4 linked regions of the Homo sapiens genome follow. The protein of the gene in region 2 purifies or fractionates together with the protein of the main gene of each other region. This does not show direct contact. Each region holds a gene or a part of one and is shown on either strand. Other genes may lie near its edges. The genes, in order: ACACB, NPTXR, EMID1 and FHIP2A.

Region 1 (8,080 bases), on a different chromosome or scaffold from region 2:
GAGCCATTTATCTCTCATTAGACTCTGAGCTATGAGTTCCTATAGGAAATGTTTTATTCAGTTTTATATCCCAGGGTCTAGCACAGTGCCTTACTCTCCTGGTAGGTGGTCAGAAAATACTGGCTAAACAAATGACTGAATGAATACTTGCATGAGAGGATACCGGTTCTTCGCGGGAGAGGTAACCTCCTTGGCACTTTCCTTAGGAGGAATTTATTCCAGAGATTCTTACAGAAAGGATGATGACAATAATGTTCACAGCACAGTGACTGATGACTTTGAAGTGAAAACTACATGCTACACAGGATGTCAAGGCCTCAAGAGTCATTCTACTCCAAATATAGGCACGGCATTCCTGTGTTCACTCCCTCATTCATTTGCTAATTCAATGAATATCCATTGATTACCTCACTGTATGCCAGCCATTCTGGTAGACATTATGATATGGTGGCAAATGGGCCAAGCTTGTCCTGCATTCAGGGCACTTAGACCCTTGTTAGGGACTGCTGAGGTCAGTCCTCCAGGAAGACTCAGGATACTGAGCAGCACTTGAATGGAGTCATTGCTAACTTTTCATGCTGGCCACCAGGAAGCTCAGAGCTACTGATAGCATTCTTCAGGGCTTCTAAGCTGTCAAAAGCAAAAGGGGGCAGGGGGAGAATAAGGGGTAAATAAAAATGTTGGAAATGAGGCCAGGCGTGGTGGCTCACGCCTGTAATCCCAGCATTTTGGGAGGCTAAGGGGGGCAGATCACTTGAGGCCAGGAGTTCAAGACCAGCCTGGCCAACACAGTGAAACCCCGTCTCTACTAAAAATACAAAAATTAGCTGGGCATGGTGGTACACGCCTGTAATCCAAGCTGCTCGGGGGGCTGAGGCAGGAGAATCACTTGAACCCGGGAGGCAGAGATTGTAGTGAACCGAGATAGTGCCACTGCACTCCAGCCTGGGTGACAGAGTGAGACCCTGTCTAAAAAAAAAACAAAAAAAAAAAAAAAGAAAGAAAAGAAAATGTATGTTGGAAATGGGAGGACAGCTCACACAAGACTACACTGGGCTCTCAAGGTGCTTTTGTGAGATTTAAAGCGATCAGAAACAGTGCCCCTCCTCTAGGAGGGCAGAAATTAGCAAAGTTAGAGAGGACTGTGGCTGGAGAGCAGGAGGGTTATGCTGCCATGGAAAAAGTCGTACACTCTTAGACCTGAAAGGGGCCCTCCAGAGTTCAGAAAGCATTATTTTAAACAGTTGGCTCAGTCTTTCCATCTGTGGGTAAAGATACAGAGGCCCAGAGAGGGAAAGTGACTTGTCTAAGGGCACACAGCATGTGTGGGGGTAAAAGAGCTGAGGACTGACACCCAGATCTTCTGGCTCTCTTCCCTCCAGCTCCCCCCACATCCATTAGCCCTTGCTTGCTGGGCAATGCCTCATATACCCCCATCCCTGCCTCTTCTCTTTTAAGGGGTGGTGTTCTGGAACCAGAGGGGACAGTGGAGATTAAGTTCCGAAAGAAAGATCTGATAAAGTCCATGAGAAGGATCGATCCAGCTTACAAGAAGCTCATGGAACAGCTAGGTAAGGGGGTCCCAAAGGCTTCACCTCTCAGAGGTCAAGAGAGGCCCAGCTGGCCCACTGCTGGGGGTTTCTAGGATGTTAAAAATAAAATGAAAAAATACCAAAATACAGCTATAATAACTGTGAGATTTTTAAAGATATTCACATTTGTCTGTTTGTTTTGTTTTGTTTTTTTGAGGTCTGGCTCTATTGCCTAGGCTGGAGTGCAGGGTGCAATCTCAGCTCACTGCAACCTCTGCCTCCCAGGCATAAGCCATCCTCCCATCTCAGCCTGAGTAGCTGGGACTACAAGTACGCAACACCATGCCTAGCTAATTTTTGTATTTTTGTAGATGTGGGGTTTCGCCATGTTGCCCAGGCTGTTCTCAAACTCCTGGGCTCAAGCAATCCACCTACCTCAGCCTCCCAAAATGCTGGGGTTACAGGCATGAGCTACCATGATTGGAGGACATTCACATTTCTAAATCAACCTTTTTAACATTATATATATATATATATATATATATATATATATTGCCATCGTGAATTTATTTCTCAGCATACACAAAAGATAGCAATTGAAGTATTTGGGGCTGATGGGGATTATCAGAATTTTGGTGGCAAAATGTTCCTTTAGAATTCCCAATCAGAGATAAGATATTTTACTAATTTTGTTTGAATGACAGCTTTGTTTTACTTGTCATCTTTAGATGTAATTATCTTTATTTATTTATTTGTTTATTTTTGAGACAGAGTCTTGCTCTGTTGCCCAGGCTGGGGTGCAGTGGCGCAATCTCAGCTCACTGCAACCTCTGCCTCCCAGGTTCAAGCGATTCTCATGCCTCAGCCTCTCAAGTAGCAGGAATTACAGGTGTGTGCCACCACACCTGGCTAATTTTTGTGTTTTTAGTAGAGACAGGGTTTCACCATGTTGGCCAGGCTGGTCTTGAACTCCTGGCCTCAAGTGATTTGCCTGCGTCAGCCTCCCAAAGTGCTGGGATTACAGGCGTGAGCCACTAAGTCTGGCCACAAGATGATATTTAAATATCCATTTTAAGTGTCAGTGTCTTTATAACTGTGCTATTCACAAGATTTTTTACAGTGTGTGCGTGTAATTTCTTTGGCTGGTATCAGGGTAATGCTGATCTCATAGAATGAGTTGAAGTGTTCGCTCCTATTTTCTGAGTTTTTGCAGAATTGGCATTATTTCTTTATGTTTTTGATAGAGGTTTTTACCTATAAATTCAACTTCTTTGTTATATATAGGACTATTTGTGTTATCTGTTTCCTCCTAGGTGAGCTTTGGTGGTTTGTGTGTTTCAAGGAATTTGTCTATTTCATCTTAAGTTGTCAATTTGGCATAGAGTTGCTTATAATATTCCCTTATCATATTTTACAATGTGTACTAAAAATCATTGATATAGTATCCTACAAGCACGATGGGTCTGATGGAAGGGGAAAATGTAGAGTTGCATGTTGAATGCTGTCTTGCAATTGTGAGTGCATTTCTGAGACTGTACTAGCTATTTGATCTGAGACAAAGGGGGCCATCAAGATGGGCCTGGGGTGGGGGCCAGGCCAGTGGACTCTGGGGGACCTAGGGGGCTGAGGGCAGCCTGTGTAGCAGCAGGGGTAATATCAGAGTTAAAGCTCAGACCTCTCACAAGGCAAGGCCTGTCCTGCAAATCCTGATTTGTGCCTTCTTCAAAAAAAAAAAAAAATCTCCACCCCATCACATATGACCAGCTTCCATGGCTTGACTGGCCTTTCTGCTCACCTGCAGGGGAACCTGATCTCTCCGACAAGGACCGAAAGGACCTGGAGGGCCGGCTAAAGGCTCGCGAGGACCTGCTGCTCCCCATCTACCACCAGGTGGCGGTGCAGTTCGCCGACTTCCATGACACACCCGGCCGGATGCTGGAGAAGGGCGTCATATCTGTGAGAGCCACAGCTGCCGTGTAGGGTGCAAAGAGCCCACCCTGTTTTCCAAAACATGGAGGACATTTGGGCTCGGGGGCGGGGAGGGCGGTGGTGGTTGGGATGGGTCAAATGCTGCAGGAGGTGGGAGTCACCTGGGAACTTTAAAATAATCCCGATCCCCAGGTGGCACTGCAGACCAGTGAAATCCAAACACCTGGATGGAAGCCAGGCGGTCGTATTTTTTAAAGATCCCCAAGAGATTCTAATAAGCAGCAAAGTTCAGGGACCACTAGTCTGATGGCTCGGTCAGTTTGGACCTGGACCAGGGGTAGAAACCGTTGTTCCTGTCCAGCATTCACCCACCCCTCACCATTGCAAGGACTCCCACAGTCACCTCCTACCCATGTCCAGTGCTCATTGGTTCTCTTGCTGCATTGTTCTCCCTCCCAGCTGACTCATGCCTCACACGAGCCTGTGTTTGTGTCGGTTGAGGTAGAAGTGGGTGCCAGGTTTTTATGGGGGACATTTTTTCAACTATGGCCAGTCTGGAGTCCTGGTGACGTCCTGCCTCTGAGCAGGTGCCTTCTCCTCCCTGAGCCTCAGCTTACTTGCCTGGGATGATCTGGGAATGATCTCAGAGCCTGGGCCCAGCCCCGGGCAGCCACTGTCATGGGTGTGGTCAGAGCCAGTGTCCCGTCTCCTCCTTCCCTTTCCGGGGATTCAAGCCTGGCTCGTCCACAGGACATCCTGGAGTGGAAGACCGCACGCACCTTCCTGTATTGGCGTCTGCGCCGCCTCCTCCTGGAGGACCAGGTCAAGCAGGAGATCCTGCAGGCCAGCGGGGAGCTGAGTCACGTGCATATCCAGTCCATGCTGCGTCGCTGGTTCGTGGAGACGGAGGGGGCTGTCAAGGTGGGCCTGGGGTGAGAACGAGGCCGGTGAGCACAGGGGGTGCTGGGGGCTGAGACAGCTGGCCCACAGCTGGGTCCCTCTCTGAGGCATCCTCTGCCCCCTCCCCAGGCCTACTTGTGGGACAACAACCAGGTGGTTGTGCAGTGGCTGGAACAGCACTGGCAGGCAGGGGATGGCCCGCGCTCCACCATCCGTGAGAACATCACGTACCTGAAGCACGACTCTGTCCTCAAGACCATCCGAGGGTGAGTGGCCACCGCACCTGCTTCCCAGCCTCCTGGCAAGGACCCGAGCCTGGATTGACCCCTAGCTACCCGACTCCTATGCAGCCACTTGAACCCGCCACCCTGTGCAGTCTGGGGTTGTCCCCGCCCCCTCCCCGCTCCCCAGCAAAGAGACCACACTCCCTAATGTCGGGTCTCCCAGCACAGTGGCTGGGGTGGGACAGAGAGCCTAGAGGTACTCTGAAGGCCGTGTGAGATGCTTCCAACTCATGAACCTTGCTGGAATATGGACTTGTCCAAAGTCACAGCTGGAGCAGGGTTGGTCACAGAACCCACATTTGGAACCGCTAGCCTTCAGGCTGCTGTCTTCCACGCCAGTGTTGACCTTTCCAGAGGGTCCCCTCCCCCAATTGCCATGGGGTCACCCCGTGAAGGAGGGAGTCGAGCACAGGGGACCCCATTTTGGGGATGAAGCTGAGACTCAAGGCAGTGTCTTGTCTCAGGTCATGTCACAAAGCAGTGACCAGTAGGGACGGTGGTGCCTCAAGGCATTCTGAACTTCAGGTCACAGCCCCTCCTGCTGCACAGGACCATCACCCCCATGGGGACCACAGCAGGGACTCGGGAGCTCTGGGTTCTGGGGTGTGGCCCCACACAAGGACTCTGCCACCCTTGGGGCCACTGAAAAAGTGGCTGGAGTGATCCCAGCCCTCCTCTCACCTCCCCCACAGCCTGGTTGAAGAAAACCCCGAGGTGGCCGTGGACTGTGTGATATACCTGAGCCAGCACATCAGCCCAGCTGAGCGGGCGCAGGTCGTTCACCTGCTGTCTACCATGGACAGCCCGGCCTCCACCTGACCGTGGCCCGCCCAGCCACTCCCGGGACCACGGCAAAAGGAACCACCCAGACCCACCACCCGTACACCCTCAGCAGACCCTGAAGACTTGCTTTTAAACAAAGAAAATCCTGGGCACTTCTGCAGGGCTGCTGGTTCCGAGCTGACACCCGTCTTAACAAAAGGCCCAGGAGTGCCTCTTCCAAACAAAAACAGCCTCCTCTCCATAGCTGGGAAGTTTATTTTGTTTTGTCTCTGAAGACAGCAGTTTTATTGCATCACTAAATCTAATCAAGCTAAAACATCCCTGTTTCCTTTTGCAAAACAGTGCCTGGCATGTGGGATCCAGGCGTTCTTTAGGATCCTTGGATACCACATCGTGAAATCTTTTATTTTTTTACTCTGAGACCAGCACCAGATGTAAGTAAGCATCTCATATATTTCAGCCAAATAAATGGGCCAAGGGAAAAAAATATATATATATAGACAGGACTAGAGAAAACCTATTTTTGTAATGATGTTTCTTTGGATACTGTCTAGTCACCCAGAAAAATGTATGGATGAATTTTTTTTTTTTTTTTTGAGACAAAGTCTCACTGTGTCATGCAGGCTGGAGTGCAGTGGCATGATCTCACTGCAACCTCCATCTCCTGTCTCAGCCTCCTAGATAACTGGGATTACAGGTGCCCACCACCATGCCCGGCTAATTTTTGTATTTTTGGTAGAGACAGAGTTTCACCAGGTTGGTCAGGCTGGTCTCAAACTCTTGACTTCAGGTAATCCACCCACCTTGGCCTCCCAAAGTGCTGGGATTACAGGCATGAGCCACCATCTTCAGCCAGATGATTTTTTTATTGAGAGAGTGAAATGCTATTTTGTTCCCCAAATGGCGCTAGTGAATCACTAGGAGGGTCCCACTGATAGGCCATGTTTAGCACTGGTTGCCAGGGATTCTCTTTTTGAGAGAGGGAAAGCAAAATGAATGGAAGTACCCAGCTGGAGGTTTCAGGGCTTCTGGAGGATGCTCTCGCATAGCTCGAGGTCCTCTGCCCACCTCTTCTCTCCAAGGAAAATGAGGACTGCCCCTTCCCCCTGCAGGATTGGCCCCCAGCCTGCGCATGCACCCTCCTCTTGCCCAAGTGGGGAGCACAGAGGCGGAGAGGAATCCCTTACCACACCCACGGCCCAGCTTGCTCACGAGTGTCACCTCTGTGACGGTCACCACTGCTCCCTTGGAGGGCCACTTGAGTTACTGTTGCTTCCTCGCCTGCTGGCTTGATGAGCACCGATGGTGGGATCTGACCCCGAGGGGCAGAGCTGTCGGTGACTGAGGACTGGACTGTGGTGACCATGCCGATTTGCTCAGGGAGAACGTTGCAATGCACCCAGCAGCTCCTGGCTCTGCAGGCGGCACAGCCTGGGGCCCTGTGATCCTCTGGTTTCTTCCATTGGGGCGGAGTCGGGGATGGAGGGAGCTGGCCACAACCCACTGCTCTGATGGGTGGTTTGTCCAAGGATGCTGAATGTAATGCCTGGTCAATGTGGAAGCCCATGAGGTTGCCCAGGGAAGCCTCCAAAAGCTGGGATGCTTGAGGGTATCCAAGTTGAAAAAGACAAAATCTGACCATCAGCCAGTGACAGTCCTGGCAAATGAAGGTGGGGCGGGGCAGTGAGGGGTGGGAGAAGGTGAATGATTCATTATTCCACCCCGAGGTTTGCTGGGGTGAGGGGAAGAATCGATGCTGCTTTGGGAACTGAAGGTTTTTCTGTTGGGAAGGCCCTCTTGGTTTTGGAGAGAAAGACAAGTTATGAGTAGCTGCTACCCTGGAACGGTGGGCAGAGAGCCTACTAGGAAATGTGCAGAATAAACTATTTTTTGAAGGAAACACTTTGGCCTTGACTTTATTATCTGGATTGGAGAAGGCAGGTTGCCTCCAGGAGCAAAGGTAGGCGTTCACCTTTGCACCCTCCATTCCTGACACCACAGCTGAGACCTTGAGTGAGTTCCCATCACAGGGGCAGACGGGGATGCAGTGAAGGAAGCTGAAGGCTAGACTGAAATGGACAAAGTCATCCCTTTTTGAAAGCACTGGGGAAAAATGTTTTAGAAAATTATATGCAAGCCTAGTCTATACCACAGGCAAAAAGGGAGCTTCTCTGGAAGAAGGGGTTGGGGGTTGGCCCAGGCACTTCACGTGCGAGTTCCATTCCTTTCCACCACCTTGATCCACCCCTGTTGTGCAGATGAGGAAGCTGAGGCACAGAGAGGTGAAGGCATTTGTCCATGGTTATGCAGAGACGGAATCAAGTCTGCTTGGCTCCAGAACCCAGCCCTTTCCTTTTATGACCTAGGTCCTTGGTGGGCAGGCTTAAGCCACACTTAGGAGTTGGTTTTACATGGACCCAAACTGCAGAAGAACCCCCTACCCGCCCCCCACCGTGGCTTCTCAGCACACAGTGACTATTCAATTTTGTCTCCAAAACACGTAACAACAACTGTTACCTTGATTCTGCCTGACACCTTTTCCAGGCAATTCCCCCTCACCAGGGATGGGCCAATCAGAGTTCTCCATTCCCCCTGACAGTGACTGACGCAGGTATGGGCGTGTATCCCCAGTAGAGCCGATCAGAATTCTTT
Region 2 (8,614 bases):
CTAGCCGGTCAGCAGGACAAGCCTTGAGGACTGGCCTTCACCCCTCTCACTCTGGGCTCCGAGGCAGAAATGGTCCAGGACAGTGACTAGCACAGGCACCGCCCTCACCTGGCTATTTTTTTTTTTTTTTTTTTTTTTTTTGAGATGGAGTCTCGCTCTGTCGCCCAGGCTGGAGTGCAGTGGCAAGATCTCGGCTCACTGCAAGCTCCGCGTCCCGGGTTCACGTCATTCTCCTGCCTCAGCCTCCTGAGTAGCTGGGACTACAGGTGCCCGCCACCATGCCTGGCTAATTTTTTGCATTTTTAGTAGAGACGGGGTTTCACCGTGTTAGCCAGGATGGTCTCGATCTCCTGACCTCATAATCTGCCCACCTTGGCCTCCCAAAGTGCTGGGATTACAGGTGTGAGCCACCGCGCCCAGCTCACCTGTCTTTTCCATGCTCCCAAAGGTGGGTGACGTCTGACCCCTCCAGATGGGTCTAGAGTTGATGATGAAGAACGAGGGCTCTACAGCCAGACAGTGGGCTCCACTGCTGCCTTGGGGCCAGTTCCTTAACCTCTCTGAACCTTGGTTTCTTTGTACCTCCCTCACAGAGATTTTACAAGGATTAAATAAGATAATGCACTGTGCCTGCCGCATAGTAAGTGCTCAGTAAGTGTTCGCTATAATGGTTATTTGGCTCCCACTCCAGGATGGGAGGAGGCAATCAGCTTGCTGGGCTGGGTTAAGGATGTGGTTTATGCCAAAGAAATGCTGTTGAAATTAATCTTGAAGTTCCGTTGTATACATACATTAAATTAGCACAAAAATGGAACAGGGGAACACACATGCATGGCCTGTAGCCGCATCATTGGGCCAACTCTTGGAAAGTGGCTCCTGGCCTCAGCCATAAAAAGTCAATATTGGCCAGGCACAGTGGCTCACGCCTGTAATCCCAGCACTTTGGGAGGCTGAGGTGGGCGGATCACCTGAGGTCAGGAGTTTGAGACCAGCCTGACCAACAAGGTAAAACCCCATCTCTATTTAAAAAACAAGAATTAGCTGGGCGTGGTGGCACATGCCTGTAGTCCCAGCTACTCAGGAGGCTGAGGCAGGAGAATCGCTTGAACCTAGAAGGCGGAGGTTGCAATGAGCCAAGATTGCGCCACTGCACTCCAGCCTGGGCGACAGAGCTAGACTTTGTCTCAAAAAGAAAAAAAAAAAAAGTCAATATCCTCTGACCCAGTACCCAGTAATACCACTCCTGGGAATTCAGCCTAAAAAAATCAACAGACTTAAAAACAAACAAACAAACAGCTCTCTGTATGAAATGGATCCTGCAATGAACATCTGGAAGAAAAATAATTAGAAACAACCTACATCTCCAGTAACAGGAGCCAGTCAAGTGACTGATGGATGGGGAGCTGCAGATGAATCCCAGGATATTATGGCATCATTAAAATGGTAATTACACAGCAGCTCTCAAACAATGGCTGCATATGGATAAGGACTGAAAGAGGGTTGCAAAAAGGGAGAAAATGACGCAATTGAATGCAGCATTTTCCCCAAAACCTTTTGATTTATTTCAATGAACAACAATAACAACACAAATAAAAATGGAAAAGAAGACACTTTCCCCTAAGCCCTTAAATGTGGCTCCCACTTGAGGCTTTGGGGAGAGGACAGGCCAATCAGACCTTCCCTTCCCTTTTGTAGGAGGGGTGGTGATGCAGGGATGTGCCTGGTGGGGACCAGCAGGGAAGTGTGATGATTATGGAAGCCCAGGTGGGGATAGGAAGGGGACAGAGTGTGAACAGGGATGGCTCCTGAGAGGAGGTGTACTTGGAGCAGACTCTAAGATGTGGAGCAGGAATGTGCTGGGGGTGATCCAGGCAGAGGCAGGAATGAACTGAGAGAGGGGTCAGGAGCGGGGGCCAGATCCAAAGTGGTAGCCTAGGAGCAGGCCGAGGAGTTAGGAGAGCCCCATGGTGGGCTTAAGGAAGACCCTTGGGGCTGCCTGGAGGAGGATGGAGGGAAGGGTGTGCCTGGAGTCATGAGACCAGAGAGGAGGCTGCTGCAAGCGTGTACAGAGATGAGGCCAATCAGAACTGGGGGGAGAGGGAGGGGCCAAGGATGGTTTCTCAGGGCACATGGAGGTACCTGGTTCAAGCTGAAACACAGTGTGGTTAGGGGGCTGATGGGACAACCAGAGAGAGATGCTCAGGAGGCCGATGTGTTGATGGGTCTGGAGCTTGGGAAGGAAACCTGGGCTGGACACTGAGTTTGGTTTGGGGCCCCTCCGTGGAATGGGTGTGGGAAGCCTCAGGGCATGGCTGAGTGTACCCAGGGAAAGTGAGGGCCAAGACGGGCACATGCCTTAAAGGAGGAGGACCCTGCAAGGAGACAGAGGCAGCAGACAGAGGGAGGAGGAGGGCTGCTGTGAGAGGCGGCTGGAAGCCCAGGGCATGGAGACCTGCAAGAGGGGATGATCAGCAGGGTCAGGTGTCAGAGAGGGTTCCCCCAAGATAAGGACTGAGAAGTCCTCATTTATCATCTTGGGGACATTAGCAAGAGCACCTTCAGTGTATCCTGGGAGGGAAAGGAGACCCTGAAAATCTGGGCACTTTGAGGATACTGAATGAGAAGAGAGGGGAGAGATTGGACAGTGGCTAACGGGTGCATGGGACTCCGCTGAGCCAAGTGGTCTCACCCTGTGTCTGCTGTGCTCCAGCTCCAGCCCCAGCCCCTCCCAGAGGCCCCCAAAAGACTAGCTGTGGCTGTTGCCACGCTCAGAAAGCAGACCTGGTGGCCAAGCAGGGCCCCGCCCTTCTCTGTCTGTGGCTGCTGCACTCAGAAAAGAGGAAAAGGTATACATGGGGAAGCCAGGGCTCCCCCAGCCTGGAAGGCTGACCTGTTGCCAAATTCCAGCTGCCAGGATCCCCCCAACCTCAGCGGGCTAACCGGAAGGGAGGCCACCCTGCCAAATGCTGCAGGTGCTGGGGGCACAGGTCCAAGGCAGGTCCAAGCCTGCCAGCCCCAGACGTGGGAGGAGCCACCTGTGCCATCTGGGCGTGGGGGCAGGGGCTATGGCAGGCACGAGGAAGTTTATTCAATGAAAGTCAAAAATTGTTTTTTACATGACTAAAACCTGTTGCCTAAAACCTGTTTGTTCCTATTTTGAGTTTTGGCTGTATTTTAAAAATGAGTAATATTATAGCTTAATGATAAAAATAGCCATCACTCAAATTGACTGAACATACCTGTGTGCCAGGCACTATTCTTGGCCTTTCATATAAAGTACTTAATCCTCCTAATATCCCAGTGAGGTAGGTGCTATTACTATCCCCATTTTACAGGCGAGAAAACTAAGACTTCCCTTCATTGCATACTTTCACCTTTTTCCTGATTATTTTCCTGCTCTTGGTTCTCTCATCCTAGAAATCCCCCAGAGCTGGAGTCGGGGAAGAGGTGGGTATGGGCCCGGCTTTTCTCCTGCCTCTGCCACCTCTCTTAGGACGTTTCTGAGCTGAGTTTTCTCATCCGTAAGGTGAGGGGTTGGCTGCAATGGCTGACTGGCTGCACTCTGACACCCTGTGGGGAGGGTGCTGACACCAGTACAGACGTCCTGGAGGGCTGTCAGACCACGACATCCTCAGCCTTGTGAGTGGGCATCACCAGTGCTGCTTGCCCAGGATTTAACTTAAAAAGCCCCGGGAGTAAGGGGTCCCTGCATTTACTCCCCGCCTCTCTCCTCCCTCCAACTTGCCTGCTGCACTCCACCTGGGTGGAGGTAGCAGAGGGGGCAGCGCGGGCTTTGGCCTCTTTCTCTCTCTTCCTTCCACAGATCTGATTTTGTTGCTTAACCCCCTTCCTTGTGGTCTGGAAGTCAGGCCATGGCTGGGGTAGTGAATGTGTCCCGGATGTTTGTCCTGCCCAGTCTGTCTGCCTTGCACTTCTGGGAGCCCCAAATTCATTCTTACAGGGAGGAAGGTGGCCATGGGACTCCAGGGGGGAAATGACTGGCCCAGGGTCACATGAGAGCCAAGAGTGGGTTCCCCCATGCTGGACCCCTTGTGTCTGACCCCAAGCCTGAGTCAGGAAAGCCTGGAAAAGTGAGTGGAGGAGGAGGAGCTCGGGGGGCCCTGTTCTCCATTCAGCCCCCACCCAAGAGCTGTGGGCTTCCAGGTGTGTGAGGCTGGGCGCCTGGCACCTGAGCTCCTGCGGTTTGGGTCATAGTCTGAGCCAGAGTGGGAGATTCAGGGTAGGGAGGTGGTGAGGGGCACCCAGGTTTGTCTTATAGGGCACTCTGTTCCCGGCTCTGTGTAATGAGGGGAGGACCCCAAGTCCTTTGGACAGCGCATCCATCTCCTGGCCATAAAGTGTGAGCGTGGAGCTGGGCTGATTTGGGGGTGTCCGGAAGAAGGAAATGAAAGGGACATTTAATGAGGTCCTAGTACGTGCCAAGCATTTTCACACACCTACATTTGATTCAATTTCCACTACAAGTGGACACTGTTATACCTATTTTACAGACACAGAAACTGAGGCTCAGAGAGGTGCCTGGAGACGGAAAAGGGTGGGGAGCGAATCTTTCTGGCGCGCCCTCTGTGCCTCAGTCACCGTGCCAGACGCCTGCCCGCGTTCCCTATCGAAATCCCCCCGCCTCGCCAGCGAGGAAGGCGCGATCGTCCCCGGAACACAGACGGGAGACCGGAGGCTCGGGGACCGCCGGACGACCGCGGCCGGGCGGCCCCTCACACCACCCGGGCGGCTCCCCCGACGGCGCGCGGCGCTCACCTCCAGGCGGTCGATGCGGTCCCGCAGGGCGCGCACGGCGTCCTCCAGCTCCAGAATGAGCGCAGGCGAGTCCCAGGGCCCGTCGGCCATGGTGTCGCGGCGGGGCCCGGCGCCCTGGAGGCCGCGCGGCAGGCCGCTCTCGCAGCGGCCCAGCTTGCCGGTGAGCTCACGGATGGTGTCCTGGTCGGCGCGGATGCGCGCCTCCTGCTGCAGCGCCGTCTGGCGCAGCTGCTCGGCCGTGCTCTGCAGCAGCAGCAGCTCTTCGCGCTCGCCCGGCGCAGCGCCCGCCGCGTCCCCCTGCTGGGCCCCCGACGGGCAGGCAGCAGCCAGCGGCGTGCACAGGAAGCGGCTGAACAGGGGCCCGGGCGGCAGCGGGTGCGCGCTGGCCGCGGGTGCCCCGGGCAGCGCGGGGGGCCCGGCTGAACCGCCCGCGCCGTGCAGCGCGCTCAGGCTCCGCTGCGGGCCCGGGGACGCGGCGGCGCCCGAGGCGACCGAAGCATTGTCGGCGCCGCCGGGCAGCGCCCGCGCCGGGCTGGCCGCCAGGGGCACGCTGGCGATGATGCAGATGACGGCACCGAGGAACGCCAGCATGCCCGCGGCCAGCAGCACGGCCAGGAACTTCAGCGTGAGGCGGGCGGCGGGGGCGCCCGAGGCCCCCGGCAGGCGCGGCGGCGGGGTCGGGGCGCGGAGCCCGGGCGCGCTGGGCCGAGCGGGGCAGGCGCGGGAGCCGGAGCCGGAGCCGGAGCCGGAGCCGGAGCTGGAGCTGTCGCCGCGGCCGCTGCTGCCGCCGCTCTGAGCCCGGGCGGCGGGAGGAGGAGAAGACGGCAGGCGGCGGGGAGGGGGAGCGGGCGCGGCGGCCCCGCCCCACTCGCTTCCCCGGGCCGGCCCTGGCCCCGGCCCAGCCCCGCACCCGTTCAGTGCCGGGCGCCCGGCTGGGGGCGCCGCCGGGGATGCGGCGAGGAGCGAGGGCAGCGCCTGGGACCTTATCTCGCCGCGGTCACAGCGCAGGGGCCGGCGACCCGAGGGCCGCGCGGCGGGGCTCCTGGGTGACCCCCATCCCAGCCCTCCCGTGCTCGGGCCCCCTCCCCAAGCCGGTTATGTTCACATCCACCCGGGAGGGAGCTTTCTTCCGGGTGGGGCTGTGCACTGGGCGCGCCACAAGCTCGGTCGCAATTGAGCCTTGCCGTGGACAGGCTCACAATAGAAATGAGGAAACTGAGACACCTGAGGTCAGGCCTCTGTCCAAGGTCACCGGGTGGCTGCGTTGGAGCCGCCTGCGAGCTTAGGCACGTTTCACCGGACCAGACTGTGGATGGGGCTGGAGTGGGAGCGGTTAGAGGTGGAGAAGAGGCCAGTGTTGGGGGTTGGGGGGAGGCTCGGATTTTGACCTAACTTCTGTTTATACTGTGGCCACCTGCCCGTCACCCCCACCTCCAACCTTCTGAAGGAGCAGAGTTCACTCCCCGCCACCCTCATTACAGAATCTTCCTGTGATCTCAGAGGATGATGGAAATTCTCTCCTCTGAATCCTTGGGGGCTTAGAGCCTCACAGGTCCAGAGAAACCCCCCACCCCCACTGCAGTCTGCCTTCGTTGGCAAGCGGTGCCACGTGCCTGGTGGGCATGTGGACCAGGCCCAGAAGGAACAGCAGGAATGGGAGTGGGCTGTGCTGTGGGGGTGGCAGAGGAGCGTTTTACTTTCTTCTGTCAAAAATGTCTATATATATTTTGTTGAAAATTAACTTTGCAATTAAAAACTTAAAAACAATCCTACTATCCTCCACACTTTATCCCCAGCTCCAATTTTCCATGAGGTCTTTCCTGACCAATACGGATTCCCAGGGCTGGAAGGGCCTTGGGAGGGCTGTGGTTATTCCCAGCTCTGTCTCCCTTCCAAGCCTGCATTTTTGACTTGAAGGGAAAGCGCAAACCAGGATCTCTGGACCACCACGGCTACCACTGTGGTTTCGAGTGTACTTCACATAGCGCTGGTGGTGGGGAGAGACCGGAATGTTTCCCAGGAAGCCACAACCCTGGGGGACGCTCTCCAGCCACGGGGATTTTGTCCAGTGTTCCCAGGCACACGTGCTCCACCTCCCTCTCTCCACACATGTTAGGATGATGTCCACCCTGTTCACCCATCTCTAGGAGCCAGGGATTTTCATCCATACCTGAGTTGTGAAAGAGGAGAGAAGCAAACACAAGCGCTGTATGCCAGGAACCTGAGTGCTGTGTGTGCGTGGATGTGTGCTGGTGCTCACTGAAGTCGTAACCTCAAAACCCAGGGCAGGCAGCTGGGCTTGGAGGAAGCATCTCATGGACAGAGAGATGGGCTGGGCTCTTGGAAGGCAAAGGCCAGCGGTAGGCCCTGCTAAAGTCCTGGGGATGCATGAGACATCGGGACTCCTGGTACATCTACACGTGTGCCGTGAAGACAGAAACACGGAGATAGCATCCCCAGGAGAAACTGTCATAGGAAGTCCAGGGAAGGACAGGAGATGCCAAGAGAGAGGGCTGCTGCCAAGAGCAGCAGAGCCACTGTGACTTGGGCACCAAATGGTGCCACCTTTACCTGAGCTGCCCCCTGAGACTTTGGGGACAGTTTGGATAAATGGGTCCAGAGGCTGGAGTCAAATTGTGTTTAAACTGGTCTGTTGATCTCCTAGAATGACTTTATTTTTTATTTTATTTTATTTTTGAGACAGAGTCTTGCTCTGTCACCCAGGCTGCAGTGCGGTGGCGTGATCTCGGCTCACTGGAACCTCTGCCTTGCGGGTTCAAGCAATTCTCCTGCCTCAGTCTCCCAAGTAGCTGGGACTACAGGTGCACGCCACCACGCCCAGCTAATTTTTGTATTTTTAGTAGAGATGGAGTTTCAATATGTTGGCCAGGCTGGTCTTGAACTCCTGACCTCAGGTGATCCACCTGCCTCGGCCTCCCAAAGTGCTGGGATTACAGGCGTGAGCCATGGCGCCCAGCCTCTCCCTTCTTCCTTGGCCCATCTCTATCCCCAGCATTCAGCATGAAGCCTGCCCAGGGAAGCTTCTCGGTGAATGTTTGCTGAACTAGTTCCTAATGCCACTGCTGGAGGCAGAGGAAGGAGGAGAGGACAGAGAAGTCCCAAAACTCGTCTCTCCTGGGTCCTGGGAGAGACCCCCCTTAATCCTAACACAGGATTCCTCAAGGGATGGGCAGAGAAGTATTCTCAGGGGAACTTCCCTAAAACTGGAATAGTTCCTATATTTTCCCTCTGAATTGTCATGACTCCTAGTTTTTTTTTTTTTAAATTTCTTCACTTTCATTCCATTCTTAGGCCAAGGGAATTCTGCCATATATAACAAATATAGGAATTCATTTTAGAAAATATGTTTTGAGACCTACATTGTGCCAGGCATAGTGCCAAGCATTGGAGAGAGCTGGGAACAAGACAAGCTCACGCAGTTTATATTCCAGTGGGGAGGCAGGCAGTAAACAAATGAATAACTAAGTAAACAAGTTAATTTCCAATAATGATGAGAATGACAAAGAAAAATCTTCAAGTGATGTTATAGAAAGTTACAGGAAGTAGGAAGGGGGAATTGGGAGGTGGGCAGTATTTATAAGGTGGTCAGAAAAGGCCTGCATTGGAGCTCAGACCTAAATGACCTGGGAAACCAGCCATGCAGAAGTCTGGGGAAAGATGGTGTGTTCTAGGCAGAGGGAACCGCTAGTGCAAAGGCCCTGGGGCAGAAAGGAGCGTAATATATTTCAGGAACAGAAGGAACAGAGTGGGGCTAGAGGCAGAGTGAGATGTAGGGGAGGGAGGAAGCTGGACAGGAAGGTGGGGGCCGTGTAGAGAT
Region 3 (4,012 bases), 9.6 Mb from region 2:
CTTCTCCAGCCTCATGACTGGGCTCAGGCCAGTTCCACCCCAGGAGGGCTTGGGGAAGGCTGGCAGGCAGGGGCTGGGCCGTCTGTCCGTCTGTCTGTCTCTACTCACCATAGAGCCCAATCATTGTTTCCAAGATTAAAACCCTCTCAGCTAAAATCTTCAAAGCCTCGCGTAGCTGGTGCAACCCCTCCCCCTGTGGAGGAAAGAGACAGATGCAGCCGTGAAGGGGGCAGGGGAGGGGACCCTGCAAAGCCCGTCGGTGGCCCATGCCCCACCCGGGACATGCACCTGCAGCCCCACACTACCTGCCACAGCCCAGGGTCCATGGACAGCCAGAACAAGACCAGGTGAGGACAGGAGGGGGACAACAAGGCAGACGGAAGGAAGCAACCCCTGCAGGACCTCCCAGAAGGTCCCGTTGGATCCCAGCTGGCTGCTCTCTGACAAGGCCGCAAATCCTGCTGCGCTGAAGGCAGGGGGAGCCAATCTTCAGGGGCAGAACGGCAGTCCCAGAAGCTGCTGGGAGCCCTCCTGTCCTCTAATGTCTGTCGCCCAGCACCAGTTGCTCTCCCAACACCTGCATGACTATATCTCTTGGCCACCTATATGCTTATTTACTTCACATTCTTTTTGCTTTAAATCACCACATTAGCCTCACCCTAATTACTCCGATCAGTGAGTTCAGGCTACTTACCAGTATTTCCACTTATGCCCAAATGAATATATAGATGTTCCTTGACTTTCAATGGGATTTCATCCAGATAAACCCAGTGTAAGTTGAAAATATCACAAGTCAAAAGTACATTTTTTTTTGAGACGAAGTTTTGCTCTTGTTGCCCAGGTTGGAGTGCAATGGCGCGATCTCAGCTCACCGCAACCTCCACCTCCCAGGTTCAAGCGATTCTCCTGCCTCAGCCTCCCAAGTAGCTGGGATTACAGGCATGCACCACCACACCCAGCTAACTTTGTATTTTTAGTAGAGACAGGGTTTCTCCATGTTGGTCAGGCTGGTCTGGAACTCCTGACCTCAGGTGATCTGCCCGCCTCGGTCTCCCAAAGGGCTGGGATTACAGGCGTAAGCCACCGCGCCCAGCCAAACACATTTCTTTTTTTTAAGAGACAAGGGTCTTGCTATGTTGCCCAGGCTGGCCTCGATCTCCTGGCCTCAAGTGATCCTCCTGTCTCAGCCTTCCAAAGTGTTGGGATTACAGGCGTGAGCCACCATCCCTGGCCAAAAAAGTGCATTTTTGACATACAATATTTTCAACTTACGATGGGTTTATTTGGAAGTAAGTTGAGGAATGTACTGAAAGCCTATATTGCTTTCGCACAATTGTAAAGTTGAAAAATTGTAATTTGAACCATCGTAAGCTGGGGACCATCAGTATGTCAATAAAATTAGACAAGGTTTGAGTTACATTGCTTTTGGAGAACTTGCGCTTAAAATTCTGAGAAACCTGAGGCTCAGCACTCTGTCCCTTCCCCAGGTCTTCACGCTTTGGGCTCCCTGCCTGGAAAACAGTGCTCACCTCTCCCAGGGCTTAGACTATGCCAGGTCCACAATCTGGCACATCCTGATGCGTCACCCTCAGCCCAGCCCTCTCCTCTTAGCAGTACGGGTCTGCTTCTCCCTGTCTCTGGCTCCCAGACCCCAGGGATGTGGCACTGGGCTCACAAAGCCCCTCCTCCAAGGCCACCAGCTCTGGGGCTCCCCACTCCCCAAGTGGTACCAGCTGCTACCCAGGGCTCATGCCAGAGACCTCATCTCTTTCTCCCCATCTGCATCCTTTCCTTCCCCAGCATATGGTCCATAGTCTTGACAACGCTCCACACTCCCTCACTCCTTCCTCTTTCCTAGTCCAGACCAAAGCTATTTCCAGAATGTAGATCTCTCAATTCCAACAGTGCACCAGGATGACAAATAGAACTATCCCAGCTCTGACAACATCTGGAAATCTCTCTTGGTGCCCTTTACTCAGTACAGATAAGTGAAGGGATAGACAATATGCATAATTGTATAATTACAAGCCAACCCTTTAAGGTTGCTGCTTCCCACAAAACCATCTAAACAACTAAGAGGTCTCTCAATATGTCCATCATGAGTGAGCCTGCTCGCTGGGGCTGACCCTTGTGATCCAGCTGTCCTGTCCACATCACATGGATCGGGTGACCCTCAGGCCGCTGAATGGCCATTTCAGCCTGGGGGTCCCAGGGTCACCACGAGCTGCATGCCAAAGTAATCCCCTTTCGAGTATTACAGGGGCAGGATCTAAAAATGAATGACCTTCGCTAGGCACAGTGACTTACACCTCTAATCTCAGTGCTTTGGGAGGCCAAAGTGGGAGCATCACCTGAGGCTAGGAGTTTGAGACCAGCCTGGGCAACATAGCAAGACCCCATATCTACAAAAAATTTAAAAATTAGAGTGGGCACGGTAGCTGTCCTGTAATCCCAGCACCTAATGACACTTTGGGAGGCCAAGGTGGGCAGATCACTTGAGGTCAGGAGTGCAAAAGCAGCCTGGCCAACATGGTGAAACCCCATCTCCACTAAAAATACAAAAATTAGCCAAGCTTGGTGGTGTGCACCTATAGTCCTAGTTACTTGGGAGGCTGAGGCAGGATAATCACTTGAACCCAGGAGGCAGAGGTTGCAGTGAGCTGAGATCACACCACTGTACTCCAGCCTGGGTGACGGAGGGAGACTCCATCTCAAAAAAAAGAAAAAAAAATTATTTGGGTGTGGTGGCACACACCTGTAGTTCTGGCTACTGTGGAGGCTGAGGTGGGAGGTTCACTTGAGCACAAGAGTTTGAGGCTACAGTGAGCTATGATTGTGCCACTGCACTCCACGATGGGTGACAGAGCAAGACCATGTCTCAAAAAACGCCGGGGGGGCTGGCATGGTGGCTCACACCTGTAATCCCAGCACTTTAAGTGGCCAAGGTGGGAGGATCACTTGAGCCTAGCCAGGGCAACATAGTGAGACCCCATCTCTAAAAAAAAAAAAAAAATGGCCAGATGCAGTGGCTCACGTCTGTAATCCCAGCACCCTGGGAGGCTGAGGTGGGTGGACTGCTTGAGCTCAGGAGTTCCAGACCAGCCTAGCCCACATGACGAAACCCCATCTCTACTAAAAATACAAAAATTAGCCAGGCATGGTGGTGTGCGCCTGTAGTCCTGGCTACTTGGGAGGCTGAGGTGGGAGGATTGATGCCCAGGAGGCTGAGGCTGCACTGGGCTGAGATCGTACCACTGCACTCCAGCCAGGGCGACAGAGACCCTGTCTCAAAAAAAGAAAAAATTAAAAAATTAGCCAGGCGTGGTGGTGTGTACCTGTAATTCCAGTACTTTGGGAGGCTGAGGTGGGAGGGTGGCTTGGGCCCCTGAGGTCGAGGCTGCAGTGAGTCATGATCATGCCATAGCACTCCAGCCTGGGCAACACAGCAAGACCCTATCTCAAAAAATAAAAAATAAAAAAAGATGATCTTAAAAAATTCCAGGCTGAGCACAGTGGCTCACACCTGTAATCCCAGCACTTTGGGAGGCCTAAGCGGATGGATCACCTGAGGTCAGGAGTTTGAGACCAGCCTGGCCAACATGGAAAAACCCTGTCTCTACTACTACTAAAAAAAAAAAAAAAAAAAAAAAAAAAAAAAAAAATTAGCCGGGTGTGGTGGTGCATGCCTGTAATCCCAGCCACTCTGGAGGCTGAGGTGGGAGAATCGTTTGAACCTGGGAGGCAGAGGTTGCAGTGAGCCGAGTTCATGCCATTGCACTCCAGCCTGGGCAACAGAGCAAGACTCTGTCTCAAATTAAAAAAAGAAAAAAAAAAGATAAAATAAAATTCCATGAAGCCATTCCTGGCATGGACAATGGGACAAGCTGACATCATGAGCTTCCTAACGAGGTACAATAAAAGGCACCACAGGTGCCCCTGCCAAGATTATTTAGCCTGCATCTCATCATGAAGAAACAATCAGACAAATTTAAATTGTGGGACATTCACACAA
Region 4 (7,299 bases), on a different chromosome or scaffold from region 2:
AACATTTTTGCCGGAAGTGATACTTGCTTGTAGTTTCTTTTTTTTCTTTCTCTCCCTATTTCTTCTTCTTTTTTTTTTTTCTGAGACCGAGTCTCGCTCTGTCACCCAGGCTGGAATGCAGTGGTGTGATCTTGGCTCATTGCAACCTCTCCCTCCCGGCTCAAGCGATTCTCCCGTCTCAGCGTCCTGAGTAGCTGGGATCACAGGTGCACACCACCACGCCTGGCAAATTTTTGTATTTTTAATAGAGATGGGGTTTCACCATATTGCTCAGGCTGGTCTTGAACTCCTGACCTCAGGTGATCCACCTGCCTCGGCCTCCCAAAGTCCTGGGATTACAGGCATGAACCACCACGCCTGGCCTTCTTCTTTCTTCTTTTTTCTTTTTCTTTTGTTTTTCTCTTTGCAGGGCATTTTCTTAGTATAGATTCCTAATAGGGTCTAGGTAACTTGACTGAGATTAAAAATTTAATATGAATAGTTTGGCAAGTGGCTAATGTCTTCATGCATAATTGAGAACTTACAGTATCAAGTATTCATAACACTATTGTGTTATCACAATGCTAATTTGAAAAAATTCATAATACAAACATTTACTATTGTTTGTAACGGTGGTGATTTTAAAAAGATAGTAAAATACTAAAGCCCATAGCAGAATGTAAAGAACACTGGGAACATTGTAAGGAGGCCAAATCTTGTCCCTGCCCTGAGCATGATGAGTTTGAATTTGATCAAGTAACTTAGCTACTTGTCACATTTTCTAATTGTTAAAGTGAAGTTGATATTACTTTTTTAAGTCAAAGTTTATTATCTCAAAATTTGAGTTCAGTCCAAAAACATGGGCCAAGTCCATTTGTCATGTCAGAGAAATCTGGCTTGCTTTCCTTTCAGGTAAATACTGTATAAAGTATAAAATAAAGGGACCTCAAGTAATAGATATAAACACTTAACTACCAACAACTTCCAAAAAGGCTAGCTTGTTTTAAAGTTATTACCAATAGGAAGTAGAGACCATTTCAGAGTACAGTGAAACAAGTTTATCTTGTTGAAATTTATTTTCATTTTTACTACGTTGAGAAATAATCTGTGTCAGCCTTAAATTTCTTAAGCAACCTATGACCTACATTTATGTTAAAATAAACTACAAACCAAGGTAACACCACACAGAGAAAATACAAAGTCTAAATAGTAATGTATTTGTTTAAAGCCAAATTGTACTGATTTATTTATTTAAGCACCTGCAGATGGCGAAATTTAGTGACCTAAAAATCTTAACTACCTGCAGTGAAGAGTCATGTACAATTCTGGACTTAAGTTGTATTTTAAATTTTTTCTACTTTTTTTTTTTTTTTACTAAATGCATTCTTTTAAATTATTTTTTGTAAATGATTCCTTCATACCTAAAATACAATTTAATGTGAATTCATTGTTTATTATGAGTTGAGTCTCAGAGAAGGCTATTCTGTTGCAAATATTATCAAGGGAGGAGGAATGGAGAGAAGTTGGTTAATGAGTCCAAAAGTACAGTTAGAAGAAATAAGTTCTAGTATTCAGTAGTACAGTAGGGAAATTAGTTAACAAAAACGTATTGTATATTTCAAAGGAGCTAGAAGAGAACTGTGATGTTCCCAACACGAAGAAAAGATAAATGCTGGAGGTGATGGATGTCCCAGTTACCCTAATTTGGTCATTACACATTACACATTGTGAAATGTATCAAAATATCACATGGACCCCCCCCAAAATAGGTACAATTATGCTATATCAATAAAAAATACCCAAAGCCCCCAAGTATTACCAAGTAGGAGAATTTACTCTTAAACTATCCTTTACTGGGAATACATATTTCCTTTCAATTACCTTGCTTACAGCTAGGTTTTGAAAAAAAATAATAAATGACTTGGAGCAGTTTTTAATTCTTTAAAAAAATCCATGTTCATGAATCTAGTAGTAAGTTAGAAAGACTAAAATGGGCCTTACAGCATAGGACTTGAGAGTTTCTGTTTATGTAACAAAACATGTTCATCGTAGCGTCTGTAGCTGTGGTGATTTTCAAAAGATAGTAAAATGCCGAAGTCTGTAGCAGAACTGGCGTGTGCCCGAGCATTCTCCACTGAATGCCAGAGATTGACTTCCTCATTGCTATTCACTGTGATCAAGGCTTTGCAGGTTGTTCAGTGGCTGAGAGTGAAACATTCCGCTGTGCTGGCTGATGTTGCACTTGGTCCTGACTCCCTCTTCCCTCCACTGTGCTGCAGTGTCTGTCTCACTCTTGCCACCTGGGTTCTCTGCAGCCTCCTCACTGTAGTTAGTTTTGTTGCAACCAATCCGTTTCCTTTGGCTGCTTAGAAGAAGCAAACTGGAAGGGGTGAGAAGTTTCTATTGAAAGTTCTGAGCAAGTAGTAGCAACTCCTTGTGTAGTGTGCCTTTTGCTTTGTTGACATGACTCTGTAAAGCCCCTTTCTGTGAAGAATAAACAGACAATTAGAATTCAAGTAAAATCACGATATTACATGTAAAACAAGTGTGAGGAACTGTACACAGATATACAGTTGTTTGGAGAAAGTTAATACTCATGCAAGAAATGAGATGATCCCTCTCTGTAATCACCATTTTGAACCTTCTCATCCACTTTGAGGCATAGGGTCGTCATCAGTTCTATCCCCAAGTACTTTCATTTCATTCTGGTGACAAGGTTCTGTGATTCGACTTTATTTTACTGTATGTGTTTTTGGGAATTGGCAGTAGTTGAATAATCTGAGGTGAGGAATATCACTTCTAAAATTACTATATTTAAAAAGGTGTAATATCTTCCCATCTTGTTTTTTGGTCTTATGCTCAATGGGTCCTCTGTAATTAATATTATATATGACACACTGGTGCTTTTTTATGACCCCTTGAACAATTTCATTAATTGAATCAACCTGCATAAAATAAACATTCTGACTCTGTCACATATTTGTCTTTATATGTTTATATATTTTTTAAATCTTTAAAGTTTTAGGCCTGCAATATATGTAATTTGAGATGATGAGAGCTAGTTTAGTTGTAGATATTTTCATTGCAGAAGAGCATGCGCAGCAGGGAGGAAGATGGTGGATTCTGCTTTCTTTTTTTTTGTTTGAGACAGAGTTTCGCTCTTGTTGCCCAGGCTGGAGTGCAGTGGCGTGATCTCGGCCCACTGCAACCTCCACCTCCTGGGTTCAAGCAGTTCTCTTGCCTCAGCCTCCCAAGTAGCTGGGATTACAGGCATGTGCCACCACACCGGGCTAATTTTGTATTTTGAGTAGAGACGGGGTTTCTCCATGTTGGTCAGGCTGGTCTCGAACTCCCAACCTCAGGTGATCCGCCCGCCTCAGCCTCCCAAAGTACTGGGATTACAGGTGTGAGCCACTGGGCCTGGCCAGATTCTCCTTTCTTAAAAGAACAAATTGAAATAGTAAATTAAGCACACCGGTATACATTATTTTTAAATGTCTTTCTGTTTTTTATCTCTCCATAGCCATATGATGTAAACTTACAAGTAACCTCAGTGTTATCTAGACTTTCTCTCTTCCCTCATCCACACATCCACGAGTACCTTTTGGATCCTTACGTGAACCTCGCTCCTGGCTGTAGATCTCTCTTCTCTGTAATTGTCAGGGTGAGTTACTAGTTCTGTTATATTCCCTAGGATTGATAAATCTGTGCAATTAATATGTTAATATCATTGTATGCAGTTAGTGTCACATAATGAAAAATATATCTACTGCTTAAAAGTAATTATTATACATTCTGAACTACTATTTTTTCAATTATTTTAAATAATATGTAACTTTTATTTTAAAGAATTAGGTATGAGTCCTTGGTTAAAGATGATTATATGAGTAGTGAAAGTTTACGTTCTTTATTAAATAGTAGGGAAGGAAGATTTTTCTTTTTAGATCCTGAGGTTGTCTGTGTAGCTGATTTCAGGAACTGAAGTGCCTTGCCTCTGTGATGCAGGTTGTTGGAGACCTTATGCTTCGAATCCAGCGTATTCAAGACTTTACTCCCAAGCTTCTGTTAGTCAGAAAGCGGTTACTTGGTTTGGAACCTGAAGGCCCTATGTAAGTTAGTGTTTTACATTTTTTTAATCCAAAAATTTCAGTGAACTTAATGATCGGCTGCTATCTTGAATTGATTTATTGTCTGTTTTTTCCTTACCAGTATTGACCACATCACACTGCTAGAGGGTGTGATTGTGTTAGAAGAGTTCTGTAAGGAGCTGGCGGCAATCGCATTTGTAAAATATCATGCTTCCTCCACACCATAAATAACATCTTTCATGTAACTGGGGGAACAGAACTACTGTGTACATTTCACCAAAAAAGACTCAGTTCCACCCAGCCACAAGAGGATAAAAAGCCTTTTTAAACGCAGTATTGCTGTAAACTGGACAGAACCATTAAGAACCTATTGAGTGGACATTCTTGGTGAAATGTTGTATAATGTTGTTTTCATTGGCTTTATCATAATGGTTCTATATATACAATTGCACATTGTTGAATCCAGGATACAATCAAAGGAACTTCAGGAAATAAGCATTTCTAATGACTGTGAAAAGCTGCAATATTTCCAATGTCATGACTTTGATGATATTTCTGTTATATTAATGTCCTTTTAGGTAGCAAGGCATTTTGACATTCTCTGGGACTCAAATGCTTGTATTCTTTTGGATTAATAAGTAGCAAAAAAAAATCACTAATTTTATAACTTTTTAAGGTCAGAATTCTTATCAAACAAAATATGAAAACTGTAAATGAGAAAAAAATACAATTCAGAAACCATTGAATGAATTAATTATAGGCGATAAAAATGTGTAGAGCACCATTAACTTTCTTCAGCTTTTTTAAGAATAACAATTTAATATGATAAATTCTTGATTAATATAATATATCTATATTTTTAAAGAAATGTTCTTTTACTCTTTTGTGCACATAGCCATGTTAGTGATTTTCTTCATGTGTGGGTCCCAGTTTATTTAAACTGTGTCGTTTTCGCAGCAGTGTTCAATTTGCTCACCATTGGTAGTGTTTGCTAAAATTGTATTTTTTTAAGCTAAGTAACATGTACTGGGTTGAGAACCTTTTTCCCCCCTCTCCCTCTCAGAAAATTGCTTTATAAAATTGCTTTATAATTTGATTTTCTTACTGAAACGCATGGTGGTGTCTAGGTGGGGAACTGACTGATAACCCTTGGCAGCAATCAAAGTGCCAGTGGCTCCTCGATGTTTACATTTTTTTCTATTTTGTTCAGTCTTTTGTTTTAAATGATTCTAAAGAGATTAAAGAAAACAGAGTTTTAAATGTCCTATTTACATGTTAAAGGATTTGGGGAAATTGGGTATGTATGTGAATGGGTGTACATGTAGGAACCTGTAGTTCAGCAAAGCTGCGCTGGGCACAGCATGCTTGTACTTGATTGACAAAATCGTGTTTGCCAGTCCACTTTCTATTTTTCCTTTAAGTGATGCTGATCACTCAAATAATGCTTTTAAGCTATTGTTTGTTTTTATTTGACATGTTAAGCCGCAGCACTTTCTTCTTCATCTTTCCATTTACTGATATTTGGGGGAACAGGCTATCAAAGGTTCCGGCTTGAAGGGAACTGTCACTACCCCCTCTAGGAAGTTATTTTATGTAGCATGTTTGCATATACGCATTGTGTGGCATGTGCATAGAGGCTTGTTTTACACCTATCTGCTCATTTTGTTGTGTTAGCTTTTCTGGTTTATTTCATAGTTTGTTCTTGCTATTTATTAAGAACAGAATATCAAAAGATTATGAATAGCCTCAGCTCTAGAATGCTTACCACTGTTAAAACAACAAAAAGACTAAACCTCTAATTTCATGCAAATCTTTGTTAGCTTATTCTAAGAAATTTATTAAGTAAAACAAAGAAAAAACAGAAGTGGGAGATAGTTATTTTGTGCGTAATTTTCTTTAAATCATTTTGAATGATGTGAAGGCATTCAGTTTGCTGTATTTTTTTAATCACTTCATACAAGGAAAACTTCGACATTTACATTTCTAGATGTAGTAACAGTCTACTTTGATATATGAGTATTTAAACTAAGGCATTAAGAGATATTAGATATTTCTTAATGTTTTCATAGTGCTCAATAGGTGTAGTAGCAATGATATTACCTCTGAAACCAAATACTCTTTTATCCTTGATTCCACTATGGGACCTTATAACTAGTCCATGAAACCAAGCTCAGAAAAGCTTTAACTCTTATATTTGTGTATATGTATGCTGCTTCTGAAAATATAATTTTTCTAAGTTGTTGTAATGACTTTAATTTGTAATCAGCTAAGGCTTAAGATTTCATTTGTTTCTAAGTTTCTGTTTTTCATCCCTTCTTTTTTCTTTTATATTTAGTTCAGACCTAGAGCCAGTAGAAGCTCTCACAGTGAGTTCAATTTGTTAGTGAAACATTGTACTGCATCACCAGTTTTTCTTACCTTCTGTTGACAGCTGAATATTTCTGTTACTCAGTACTTGCAAAAACAGTAACTAAAATGCACTATGCTGAGTGGAAAGCACCGTCATAACAATTGATTGCCATAGCAAGTTCCAAAGTGAATTTCAGCCTTGCTTCACATTTGTATCAATAAATATGCACATTTTTTAAAACTTTCTAACAATATAGTCTTTGGATTTGTTTTTAGTTATGAGCCGCATTCTTTACTTGATAGAACTCAGATTTGTCTTAGCCTATTGCCATATAGTACTCACCTTATAACTATGTAACTTTCTCGTAATGTATCTGTTTGTGCAATATGGAAGCTGTGAGTGGATTCATAGCTTTTTGGTTTAATTGTACATTATTGTGTGTGTATATATGTATATATGTATATATATAAGGACCAAAATTCTTAGCTCGCTTACACTGTTGCTAGTGTAAACATTGTTACACTTAATTTTACAGGGCACAAATTATGGAATTACTTCATAAATTCATGGTAATGTTTTCATAAATTATTGCATTAACATACAATTGCCATTTAATTATGAAGTCCATCAGTATTGACAGAAGACGTTACAGTGAAGTGCTAAAACCACACTATATGGTAATTATATTTTGGGTTATGTAGTAAATCAAATATGCATGTCATTGTGACACTTTATGTGTTAAAACATGGTAGATAATCACATTTTCTGGGCCCTGTAAAATAGTGTTACTGTAATACTCTGTTTTGCCTCCTGCCTTGTTTACATTAAACAGGATATTTGGTAAATTTTTTTGTATTGAAAGTTGTGTAGGTTACTGACAGT

What was found.
Region 1: the proteins of NPTXR (region 2) and ACACB purify together in Homo sapiens (affinity purification with mass spectrometry; one large-scale study listed by BioGRID and IntAct). This does not show direct contact.
Region 3: the proteins of NPTXR (region 2) and EMID1 purify together in Homo sapiens (affinity purification with mass spectrometry; one large-scale study listed by BioGRID and IntAct). This does not show direct contact.
Region 4: the proteins of NPTXR (region 2) and FHIP2A purify together in Homo sapiens (affinity purification with mass spectrometry; one large-scale study listed by BioGRID and IntAct). This does not show direct contact.

The regions. Positions count from the first base shown.
Region 1 is NC_000012.12:109,260,899-109,268,978, forward strand, and holds the end of ACACB (acetyl-CoA carboxylase 2), read left to right. Parts: intron 1-1,458; coding exon 1,459-1,571; intron 1,572-3,333; coding exon 3,334-3,488; intron 3,489-4,211; coding exon 4,212-4,382; intron 4,383-4,490; coding exon 4,491-4,627; intron 4,628-5,337; coding exon 5,338-5,464; 3' UTR 5,465-7,328; downstream 7,329-8,080. UniProt on the Homo sapiens protein: Mitochondrial enzyme that catalyzes the carboxylation of acetyl-CoA to malonyl-CoA and plays a central role in fatty acid metabolism.
Region 2 is NC_000022.11:38,838,459-38,847,072, forward strand, and holds the start of NPTXR (neuronal pentraxin receptor precursor), read right to left. Parts: upstream 5,571-8,614; 5' UTR 5,401-5,570; coding exon 4,777-5,400; intron 1-4,776. UniProt on the Homo sapiens protein: May be involved in mediating uptake of synaptic material during synapse remodeling or in mediating the synaptic clustering of AMPA glutamate receptors at a subset of excitatory synapses.
Region 3 is NC_000022.11:29,250,384-29,254,395, reverse strand, and holds part of EMID1 (EMI domain-containing protein 1 isoform 1 precursor), read right to left. Parts: intron 467-4,012; exon of another isoform or gene 306-466; intron 194-305; coding exon 109-193; intron 1-108.
Region 4 is NC_000010.11:114,857,247-114,864,545, forward strand, and holds part of FHIP2A (FHF complex subunit HOOK interacting protein 2A), read left to right. Parts: intron 1-3,502; coding exon 3,503-3,643; intron 3,644-3,984; coding exon 3,985-4,088; intron 4,089-4,188; coding exon 4,189-4,294; 3' UTR 4,295-7,299. UniProt on the Homo sapiens protein: Required for proper functioning of the nervous system.